3 linked regions of the Homo sapiens genome follow. The protein of the gene in region 3 interacts with the protein of the main gene of each other region in a biochemical or structural test. Each region holds a gene or a part of one and is shown on either strand. Other genes may lie near its edges.

Region 1 (3,653 bases), about 43 Mb from region 3:
TATGTTAAATGACAAATAAGGCTAAAAAAAGTTACAATATATGACAAAGGACGGACATTCTTAAGAACTTATATGCCAAAAAAAGAGCAAATTCTCCAAGCAAGCAACAGAAAAAATATGAATGAGCAATTCTCAAAAGAATGAATATAGCATGGCCAATGAATATGAAAAAAAACACAACCTTCACTAAGTAAGAAAAACAAATACAAATTTTAAATGTAGCCCTTTTCTGTAATTATTCAATTTGCAAAGATTTTAAGTAGTAATTTTCAATTCTGAGCATTGGATATATTGCTAATGGGAATGTAAATGAACATGATCTCTGCAGTGAGTAATATATATAAAAATTCTCAAAAACACTTTCACCTAACAATTTCATTTTTAGAGCGGTATCTTCTGGAAATAAGTCATTTTCTATGGATGTGATTAAGATGTTAATCATATCACTATTTACAGATTACATTATAATACATAATCAAATTGCTGAATAGGAAATAAATCTTAAAGTTATGGTATACCCATGAAATAAAATATCCTACAGCTGTCTAAAAAGCAAAATATTTAATATGGGAACATATTGACAATATATAGAGCAGACTACAAAGCAATGTACATTATGATTTCATTTTTGAGAATATAAATGCATAACTATGCATAGAAAAATAAGCAAAAACACAACATCAAAATGTTAACAGAGTTTATCTCCCTAGATGGCAGGATTACAGGGAACTGTGTGTCCAGGCACATGAACTCTTCCATATCATCCAGCTTCCAGAAATAACATCAAATTTTACGCTGTGAAATCATTTACTATTCGTTTTAAGAACTAAAACTAATGAGAATCTTAGGTCAGTATACTTTTCACATTTGCTTGAGGGGGGTAAGGAATGAAAGCAATAATTACACCTGGAAGCAAATGTGAACAGTCTTTTTCGAAAGGAAAAAGTTGTATTTAATTAAGTCCCGGTAAAACATCACCTTAGCATTTGAAGTTGTTCTAATTAATATTTTATTCTTCAACACTTTTAAAGACTCCAATATATTAGACAAAGAATTTTTTGATAATGTAAGTTAATTTCTCTGGAGACAACCATATAATCCTCTAAAATGACATGAACGTTTATATATGGGACTGAAGCTTCTGCAGTCTATATATACCTATTTGGGGGGAAAAAAGTAAAGTACTGACAATTCAATTTTAACAAAAAAAAAATGCTTTCCTTATCAAACATTAATGTTGTGTACATGAACCTATCATCTGTGACAGCAAGGAACTCAAGCCAGGTGATGCACAAGCCTTCACCCAGCTCAGTTAGCTTGGGCTTCTCCTGTACCAGATTTGCCTGAAGTAACATGAGGTTATTTAAAAAGACCTCCACCTAGATTGCAGTGAGCCGAGATCCTGCCACTGCACTCCAGCCTGGGCGACAGAGCAAGACCCCATCTCAAAAAAAAACACAAAACCAAACAAACAAACCAACAAAAAAAACCTCCACTTTCCAGCATCTACTCAAAAGGGAAGTCCTTCCTAATCAGAAGAGAGATAACGTTCTTCCTAAGGGAAGACAGAAAAAGGAGAAGAGCATTTGTTAAGCATTCTCCATACATGTCTTCCTAGGTATTTCACATCCAATGTCTCAATAACCCCATGCAAACATGCATACAATTCTTTAGACTGCTCCCTTCATTACCCAAAAAAGAAGGGAACTATGTCTTCCTAATTGATTTTAGGTGCCTGGAACAACTAAGTATTTCACTGAAAGACATGTAATAAATGCTATTTGATAGGTAAGAAAAAGGAAAAAAGCAAAGTTACCTCTTTTCATTTGGCTTAAAGAAAAAAAAAGTATGTTCTACTATATACTAAAATATCAGACCAATACACAATATATTGCAAAATTTTAATACCATGTGGTTAAACACAATATTCAAATATTAAACTTTTCAAGCACATGAAAGTCACCTTCTGAAAGACAAACTGGGCTTTTTTTATAACTACCTTTGTGTAACTTTATAAAATTACTTCCCTCAACAATATCTGACACTGATCTTGATACTAGTTAGAAAGTCTGATGTAAGATGATGACATCTCAACGTCAGTGATTTAGGAGATTATCTTCAGAATTCATCAGAGGACCAATCGTCATCTTCATCCCTTACTTCTCGGTATCTCCCTGAAGACTCCCCTTCTGGATTATAACTCCGCATTTTAATATTCAGTCTTTCAGCTAATTTTTGCGCTGCGAGCTTTGCTTGCATCTCCTTTAAAACAAAGAGCAAAGCACAAAGTTACACGTTCACATCTCTTCCTTACAATTTTTCAATGGGAAGTTACCTAGAATCAGCAATAAGAGGGACACTGACACCTCACTGAGTGCTCCCTTGGGCAATACAAGCCTGATGGCTGTGCCCTATCAGACACAACTGGGTAATGCTTCTGACAGCCACCAGCCTGCTACAGTTGAAGTTACTGACCTCCATTAATATACAACATTGCACTGAAATACACTCCTCTATATAAGAAACTGAGTAATGAGCTTAGCACTACAATACTTATAAATACAGATGCGTTAAATATGGGGGCACATGCACATGTATACACACTCACATAACAATTTGACCTATCAAATGTCAAAAATGACTAATGCTGGGGCCCGGTGCAGTGGCTCACGCCTGTAATCCCAGCACTTTGGGAAGCTGAGGCAGGCGGATCACGAGGTCAGGAGATCGAGACCATCCTGGCTAACACGATGAATCCCCGTCTCTACTAAATATACAAAAAATTAGCCGGGCGTGGTGGCGGGTGCCTGTGAACCCGGCGTGTTCCCGGGTTCACAAGAATGAACAAGAATGGCGTGAACCCGGGAGGCGGAGCTTGCAGTGAGCTGAGACTGCGCCACTGAACTCCAGCCTGGGTGACAGAACAAGACTCCGTCTCAAAAAAAAAAAAAAAAAAAAAAAAAAAAAAAAAAAAAAAGAAGGACTAATGCTGTCTAGATTTCTACAACTGACAGGACCTTCTTCCCTAATTACAATCATGACTTCCAGACTTGGGAATTACATTTCAATGGCAAAATGAAAATCAAGAAATTAATACTAAAAAGCTGACTATTCCTCTCCAAATAAAGTCCTACAGCAACTAGTATCCAATAAAAAGTCCAAGTAAATTTCAGACACTGGCAATGTACTTAAAAACTCCCAAGGACTTTACCACCAACTGATGGTAGGTGGCAATGTCATTCCTAATTCAGTTCTTCCCTTTTCTCATGCTTTCTTGAACTTCTTGATGTCCTCCTCTTCAAGCCATGAATATGGGTCAGTAAAAGTGGGAGCTATTACCACTACAACTTCTCTGCTAAAAAAAAACAATTTAAAGATGAAGGGTTTAATTCAACCTAAAAATATCTTAGGACAGGCATTTAAGAGCTCAGAGACAGTAAACACTTCCTCAATGCTACAGCCATAACTAGACAGTCATTTTAATGCACTGAAAGAAAAATGGTTTTTTTCAAAAAGAGCACCTTGATAATGCCAATCCATGCCAAGGCTTTTATGAAAAGCCAAAGCAGATTAACAGCCTGTTTTGTTGTTTTTTTTTTTGAGACAGGGTCTCACTCTGTCACCCAGGCTATACAGAGTGCAGTGGTGTGACT
Region 2 (3,653 bases), on a different chromosome or scaffold from region 3:
ATTTTATAGAAGAAGAAACTGAGACTGGGAAGTGAAGAAACTTGCTCAAGGACGTAAGATGAAGAAGGTGTAAGGTGAAATCTGTCTATTCCATAGCCCGGCAGTTAACTTCCATGCTCAGCTGTTTCTTTGTAATAGTTGCTCTCTTCACTTGAATTCACATTCTTTCCCTTCTACATCAGAGGAAAATAAACCCTAAGTATCCTAAACCCTTTTCAAAGATAACTGTACTTGTCAATTAGTTTTATTCCCACATATTTCTTCTTGGCCCATAATCCTTTAATGATCTCTTCCAAGTACAGTTCAAGTTGCTTCCAGTGGCTTCTTCCAACAGACTTCCTCATCCATTCACTTATCTTTTCCACTGCCTATATTCTATCTAGTTCCTTTTACTGTCAAGGTTAAAAGGTGCCACTACCTCCACATATTTCCAAAAGCCCTTGAAATACTGTTTCAGCCCTACTTTATTCCCTAAAAACATCAACTCAAAAGTCTCCTAAGATAATCACTAAGGTTTTTTCTCAGTTATTTTCCTCAACTTGTTACCCCTGTTGCTATTGCAAACTCACCCACTTGTATTTCTGTGAGAGTTTACCATTTTTTTCTGAACTAGTTTCTCAGTACTATCCCATTCTTTACTCCTCTTCTATCCTCTTCTCTTCTTCCATCCTCTTCTCTTGTATATCTAATCTACCTTGAAAACTCCAATCATTATCACTAGGATAGTAACTCCCAGTGAATTTATTCAGAGGGTGAGCACGGTGGCTCACGTCTGTAATCCTAGCACTTTGTGAGGTCAAGGTGGGAGGATGGCTTGAGCCCAGAAGTTCGAGACCAGCCTGGGCAATATAGTGAGACCCCAATCACTATTTTAAATAAATAGATGAAAGAAAAGAAAGAAAATTATTCACAGAGAGGATGGCATGCGCCAGAAGAATAATTTCTTCCCGGGTAAGAGAAAAAAGGGGCAATAAGATGCAAAAGATGGATTAGAGTTTGGCTATGAGAAACTTCACAGACCTCTGCTTACTCTGCACACTGACTATAGGACTAGCACACTATGACCCATGGGCCAAATCTTGACCAAGGCATTTCTGTATGATTCATGAGCTCATACTTATTTTTACATTTTTAAAGAGCTGGAAAAAAAAAAGGCAATGTGTAACAAAAATCATATATATCAAGCAAAGCCTAAAATATTTATTATCTGGCCCTTCATAGAAAAAAATTACCAATCCCTGCCATACATTGTTTGGAGCCACTGAAGGAATTCAGGAAGGCATGTGATATATTCAATTGTTTTTGGAATGATCATTCTGGCAGTTCTGTAGGACACAGAGACATGAGAAAATAGAAAGGTATACTAGAACAGTAAATGTGAGAAGACAAAGTCCTGAACAAGGACAGCATAGAGAGAATAACAGGGACTTTGTAATTCCTTGGCTGAGGAGAATGACTAAGGAGGAAGAGAAGAGAAGTAGCCAAGATAGTCAAGCTGAGTGATTAGGATGTTGTTGCTATTACAGAAAACCAGAGGGGCCAGGTGTGGTGGCTCACGCCCATAATCTCAGCGCTCTGGGAGGCTGAGGCAGGAGGATTCCTTGAGGCCAGGAGATAGAGACCAGCCTGGGCAACAAAATGAGATTCTGTCTCTACAAAAAATAATTAAAAAAAAAAAAAAAAAAATGGCTGGGCGTGGCGGCTCACGCCTGTAATCCCAGCACCTTGGGAGGCCGAGGCGGGCGGATCACGAGGTCAGGAGATTGAGACCATCCTGGCTAACAACGGTGAAACCCCGTCTCTACTAAAAATACAAAAAAACACCGAGCCGGGTGTGGTGGCGGGCGCCTGTAGTCCCAGCTACTCGGGAGGCTGAGGAAGAATGGTGTGAACCCAGGAGGTGGAGCTTGCAGTGAGCTGAGATCGTGCCACTGCACTCCAGCCTGGGTGACAGAGCGAGGCTCCATCTCAAAAAAACAAAACAAAACAAAAAATAAAATAAATAAAAAAAATAGCCGGGCATAATGGCGTGCCCCTGTAGTTTCAGCTACTTGGGAGGCTGAGGTCACACTGAGCCATGATTGTGCCACTGCATTCCAGCCTGGGTGACAGAGTGAGACCTTGTCTCAAAAAAATAAAGAAAAAGAAAAAAAAAAAAGCAAAGAAAGCTGTATACATATAACAGGTACTGAAAGAATATCTGGTGACTGATGCGGCAAGAAAAAACAAATTTATTAATTTTTTCCTGATTTATTCCCAAACCTCTCTTGTATAAGGTTCTTGCCCTGATTCTAAATCATACCTTGGAAGGAGGTGGTACAGGCTTAGGAACCAGGTTCTTATAGACACTTGGAACCACGGATGACAATTTGTTCCCATTTGCATGGTGAGATCCTGGTGAGGTGAATGCAGCAGAGAAGGCAGCAGCAGGATCCTCTTTGGAAACTTTTTTGATAACTAGCATCTTGGAGGGTTGCTTGGCACTAGGCGGGTTTTCTGTGAAGTACAAGAGTGGAGAGACAACAGAATGTCAAACCTGTTGTGTAACATGAAGCATAGTTTATACAAAGGCCTTAGTCAACAAAACAGCTGACAGTTGAGACAGAGGGATTAAACATTCCCTGGTATGCACTTAATAGATACTCTCAAAAGTGAGACTACTCAGGAACTGTACAAAAAAATGCAGCATATGAGGAACTGGATACTAAATTTATAAATCAGCCAGGAAGTCCAAAGATGTTAGCAGTCCTTCAGGGGCACAATATGTCTGATGGACAGTGTGATCAGTTAAGCATGAACCCAACAAGAATAAATCCAAGCGCCAGGCACTGTGGCTCATGCCTGTAATCTCAGCACTTGGAGGTGCTGAGGTGGGCAGATCACTTGAGTCCCAAGAGTTCGAGACCAGCCTGGGCTGGCAAACCCTGTGGCAAATCCCCATCTTTACAAAAAATACAAACATTAGCCAGGCATGGTGGTGCACACCTGTGGTCCCAGCTACTTAGGAGGCTGAGGCGGGAGAATCACTTGAGCCCAGGTCGAGGCTGCAGCGAGCCATGACTGTGCCACTGCACTCCAGCATGGATGACAAAGTCAGACCCTAACTCAAAAAAACAAAAACAAAACAAAAAAAAACACCTAAAAGTAGCAGCTCCTGTCAGCATGAGAATAGAGAGATGAGGTAATCAGGGATTGGAGTCTGCCATGAAACCCTCTGATGAGGCAAACTGGAGCAAAGGTATACACCATTAGCAAAGAGGAGAAGGTACATCGATCAATCTTAATCCTACAATACTGGATTCTAAACCCATCATTTAGATATGTTAAAGACTTCCCATGTTCTTGGCTATCAACATGTCTAATGAAGAAACCAGGAGAGTCCAATTTGTAAATGCCAAAGATCCCAATGCCACAGATGAGGTTTGGTTTGAAATACAGATTCCTATCGCACCACTGCACTCTAGCCTGGGCGACAGAGTGAGATTCTGTCTCAAAAAACAAAACAAAACAAAACAAAAAACCACAAACATATATATACACACACATACACATAAACACACACACACACACACACACACACGAATATTTAAACATACATATATATGAATGTTTAAGAATATATTGTTATGGGCTGGGTATGGTGGCTCACGCCT
Region 3 (3,653 bases):
GGATTTGAAGAACTTCTGGAATGTTCCTTCTCCTCCTTTGGTCCATGCTGGGTCCGGTGGTGGGCAGTGCTCTGAGAGGTGTGTGACTGTGGCAGGGCTTTCAGGACCGAAGCGACGGCCACTCACAGAGAGCTGGGGGGGCGAGCCACTGCCTGGGTGATGTCTGCTCAAGTTCCACCCACCCTCCGCAATCCAGAAGTCTTCCCAAGTATTCTCCACCTGAATTATGTGGAAGTTTCCTGACTTCTCTACTTTCCAGGACAGCTCTCCTTGGCTGGCGGGACTGGTTTTTCCACTCTGGCTGGTGTCAGACATACTCAGAAGAATGAACATCTAATGACATGTTTGTCAAAGTAATGCGCGTCCTGCAGCCCATGCCCAGCATCTCATTGACAGCTGCTCTGTCAGCTGGCAAACTCTACGCCCATCAAAGCTTTCCAACCATTCCTCTTGCACCGCAGGCGAGCTGACTGCTGCTGGTGCTAATGAGGTTGAGATTGTCACACACCTTCCTGGGACACAATTGTGTTGCACAAACACACAGCGGGCCGCACGGCAGGGCAGACACACACAGACCCCAGCCTCACACCAGCTGGGCAAAGCCCCCCACATCCAGGGGCTTTGAAAGGATTAACCATTGTAAACAAACATGAGCTGAGGTCACGCAAGTCACAACAGGTAGGGGGTGTGAAAAGGCGTGCCTAGTACACAAATAAAAAATTAAAAATACCATTACCCCAACACCCAAGAGTAGACACTCTTTTTTAAAGTGTGGGTCTTTTTCTAACGCACACGTGGAAGTATAATAAGAACGTCGTCGTTTTCAATCACGTTATCTTCCAAGGATTTTTAAAGCATGAGAAAGCTGTCCCTACATAATTTTGAGTGTCGTTAGTTTTCCTTCTGGCGGCCAACTTTTCTCAGCCGGAGCTGGAAATTAGGCCTGAACAGTGTTCCCTGAGTGAGGCTGGTGGATTTGGGGGGTGGGAGAGGGGAAACAGGGCTCCCTATCATCCCAGGAAGTCTAGGAGAAGGTGGGATGGGACAAATCCAGCTTAGGCTCTGGGGACATGTGCAGAGGGTGAGTCCTGCGGGGGGATCAGCTGCAGTCATAGTAAGTCAAGTATTCCGCATTTATTCCAGAAAGACTTCAAGGCAAAGAGGCCAGTGGAGGCAGATCTAACTTTGGATGTAAGCACAGGAGGTTTACCGTTTAGATTCTAAACACAAATCATCAGTACTTAAATAAACAATAATTTAAAAATAACTTGCAATATTATTCGTCTGGATGCAAAAGAAGGCAAAACAAAACAAAAAGCAATGTGTAGATATTGCAGGAAACATAAACAGCACCGATGAGCAAAGCACAGTGACTGCAATCCCAGCACACAGACGTGGCCACACGCCACCCTTTGAGCATTACCTGCTCCTTGGCTGTAGTCTTAGTGTACACATTTATTAATATATTCTGCGAAAATGAAATCCAACATGCAATGCGTTAAAATTGGGCTTTACAGAGGGAGCACTGTAGGCTTTAGTCCCTGGAATTAATAACTTCTGTTAGTGAGCTCCAGGGCTGGGGCTCACAGGCTCAGTTCTGCTGGTACCACCTGTGGGACCTTAAAACTCTGAGTATGGGTATAAATTAGTAGCTTCTCACCAGATTCCTTATGAGGATTTGGTTATTATTGTAATTCATTAACATGTAACATAATTTTCTTAATGCTAAACAGGGGACAGAACTTTCTGGGGTGTTTCAGGCTATCTTCCTCTCCTCTTCAACTCTGTGTTCTCTGTATTAGGTCACTGCACAAACACCTCCCTCATTCTCAGGGGTTCCCAGGGTGTCACTTCCCTGTCCTGTCCCTACTTCAAGCTCCTTGAACAGTACACAGTGAAGGCTGCTGAGGTCACGTCAGGGTCCTTGGCCCTTGTGTGTGTCCCTTGGGTTATACAGAACAGGGATAGCAGGGATTCCTGAGATCCCACTGGGGAAAGAGGCCATCAGAGCAGAGTCAGGAGAGGACACCTCCTAAGGAGCAGTGCCAAGCTCAGATGCAGGCCTTTAGGGAGAATCATGGGGGCTGGGGAGTGCCACACTTTGGCCTTTCGGAACACCTTAACATTTTCTGGTTATCTGTCCTGCCACGAGCTTGGAGGTGGGGATGGGTTTGTCCAAAGCCCATTGCGCCCCGGTCCCTGGGACCTGTAAGAATCAACGGGGGATCCCTGGGGACCTAGAAACGCAGGCTGTCTGTGCCCCAGGCCTCCTGAATGAGATTCTGCATTTCATCAGGATCCCCAGGGGACATGTGCACCTGATAATTTGAGAAGTGCTGCTCTATGGGACTCAAACCATTTAGATGGCCTGATTCTCAACTTTAGCTACACGTTAGAATCACTAGGGAACTTTGAAAAATTAGCCATGCTGGCCGGGCGCCGTGGCTCACACCTGTAATCCCACCCCTTTGGGAGGCTGAGGTGGGTGGATCACTTGAGGTCAGGAATTCTAGACCAGCCTGGCCAACATGGTGAAACTTCGTCTCTACTAAAAATACAAAAATTAGCTGGGCGTGGTGGCGCACGCCTGTAGTACCAGCTACTCAGGAGGCTGAGGCAGGAGAATCACTTGAACCTGGGAGGTGGAAGTTGCAGTGAGCTGAGGTCATGCTACTGCACTCCAGCCTGGGTGACAGAGCAAGACACTGTCTCAAAAAAAAAAAAAAAAAAAAAAGAAAAAAAGAAAAGAAAAAGAAAAGAAAGAAAGAAAATGAAAAAGAAAAAATTACCCATGCTTGTTCACTCCCCGCCCCCCTGCCCCAAGATGCTGCTCCAGTGGGTCCAGGTGGTGCCAGGGCCCTGCCGGTTTGAGCCACTACCCAGTGACTGTGTGGGCCGTGGTTGAGAAGCACTCCTTTAGATCACCAACTGTTGACCAGGAGGGGAGGGAGCAGCGCCTCCTGTGGGCTTTTTCAGATGACACAGTCACCTACCCTACAGGCCCCAAACAGACCCAAGGTCCCTGTCCCCACCCTCGTCCCTCAGGGCTGCGAAGAGGAGCAGCAGGAGGATAAGGGAGCCTCACGTGCACTGGAAAGGTGGAGGTGCTACCCCCAAATCGGGGACTGCGTTCTATCACCCACGCCACCTCGATCTCACACCAACAGAGCAAGGTCTTCCTACCACACAACTGAAAAAAGACACACGTCTAATACAAAGAAAAAGAAAATTTACAAAGATGCAAGTTGAACACTCTGGAAAGATTTAGTGCTGGGCAATGTCAAGAAGCAAATTCGTTTCCCATTTCATAATGTGATGGATGTGAAACGACACCTTCCAGAAACATCACCCTGGTCAGCTGCTGGACATTTCAGATGGAGTGAAAACACTCAAACAACTGAACAAAGTGTCTGCCAAGCCAGGTACAGTGGCCGATCGTTAGTTAACACGGTTAAGGGTACAAACGTGGGCCTCTCAGACCCAACCTGTTGACCCTTTCACCTCCCATAGTGTGGCCTAGCATTTAAGAATGAGTGTTGCAGCATTAAGACAGGGTTCAGATGGCAATTCTGTGATTTCTGAGTTGTTGACCTTGAACACGTTTCCAGGCTTCTCTTACCCTCATGTTCCTCAGCTATAAAACGGAAATAAAA

Evidence for each region.
Region 1: the proteins of LRRK1 (region 3) and POLR2M form a complex in vitro, tested with the Homo sapiens proteins (2 studies listed by BioGRID and IntAct, with this or other methods).
Region 2: the proteins of LRRK1 (region 3) and GPBP1L1 form a complex in vitro, tested with the Homo sapiens proteins (2 studies listed by BioGRID and IntAct, with this or other methods).

Annotation. Positions count from the first base shown.
Region 1 is NC_000015.10:57,713,145-57,716,797, reverse strand, and holds part of POLR2M (protein GRINL1A), read right to left. Parts: intron 2,263-3,653; coding exon 2,119-2,262; 3' UTR 1-2,118. Other genes in the region: GCOM1 (GRINL1A combined protein), read right to left, coding at 2,119-2,262.
Region 2 is NC_000001.11:45,637,908-45,641,560, forward strand, and holds part of GPBP1L1 (vasculin-like protein 1), read right to left. Parts: intron 2,497-3,653; coding exon 2,303-2,496; intron 1-2,302. UniProt on the Homo sapiens protein: Possible transcription factor.
Region 3 is NC_000015.10:100,925,762-100,929,414, reverse strand, and holds part of LRRK1 (leucine-rich repeat serine/threonine-protein kinase 1), read right to left. Parts: intron 1-3,653.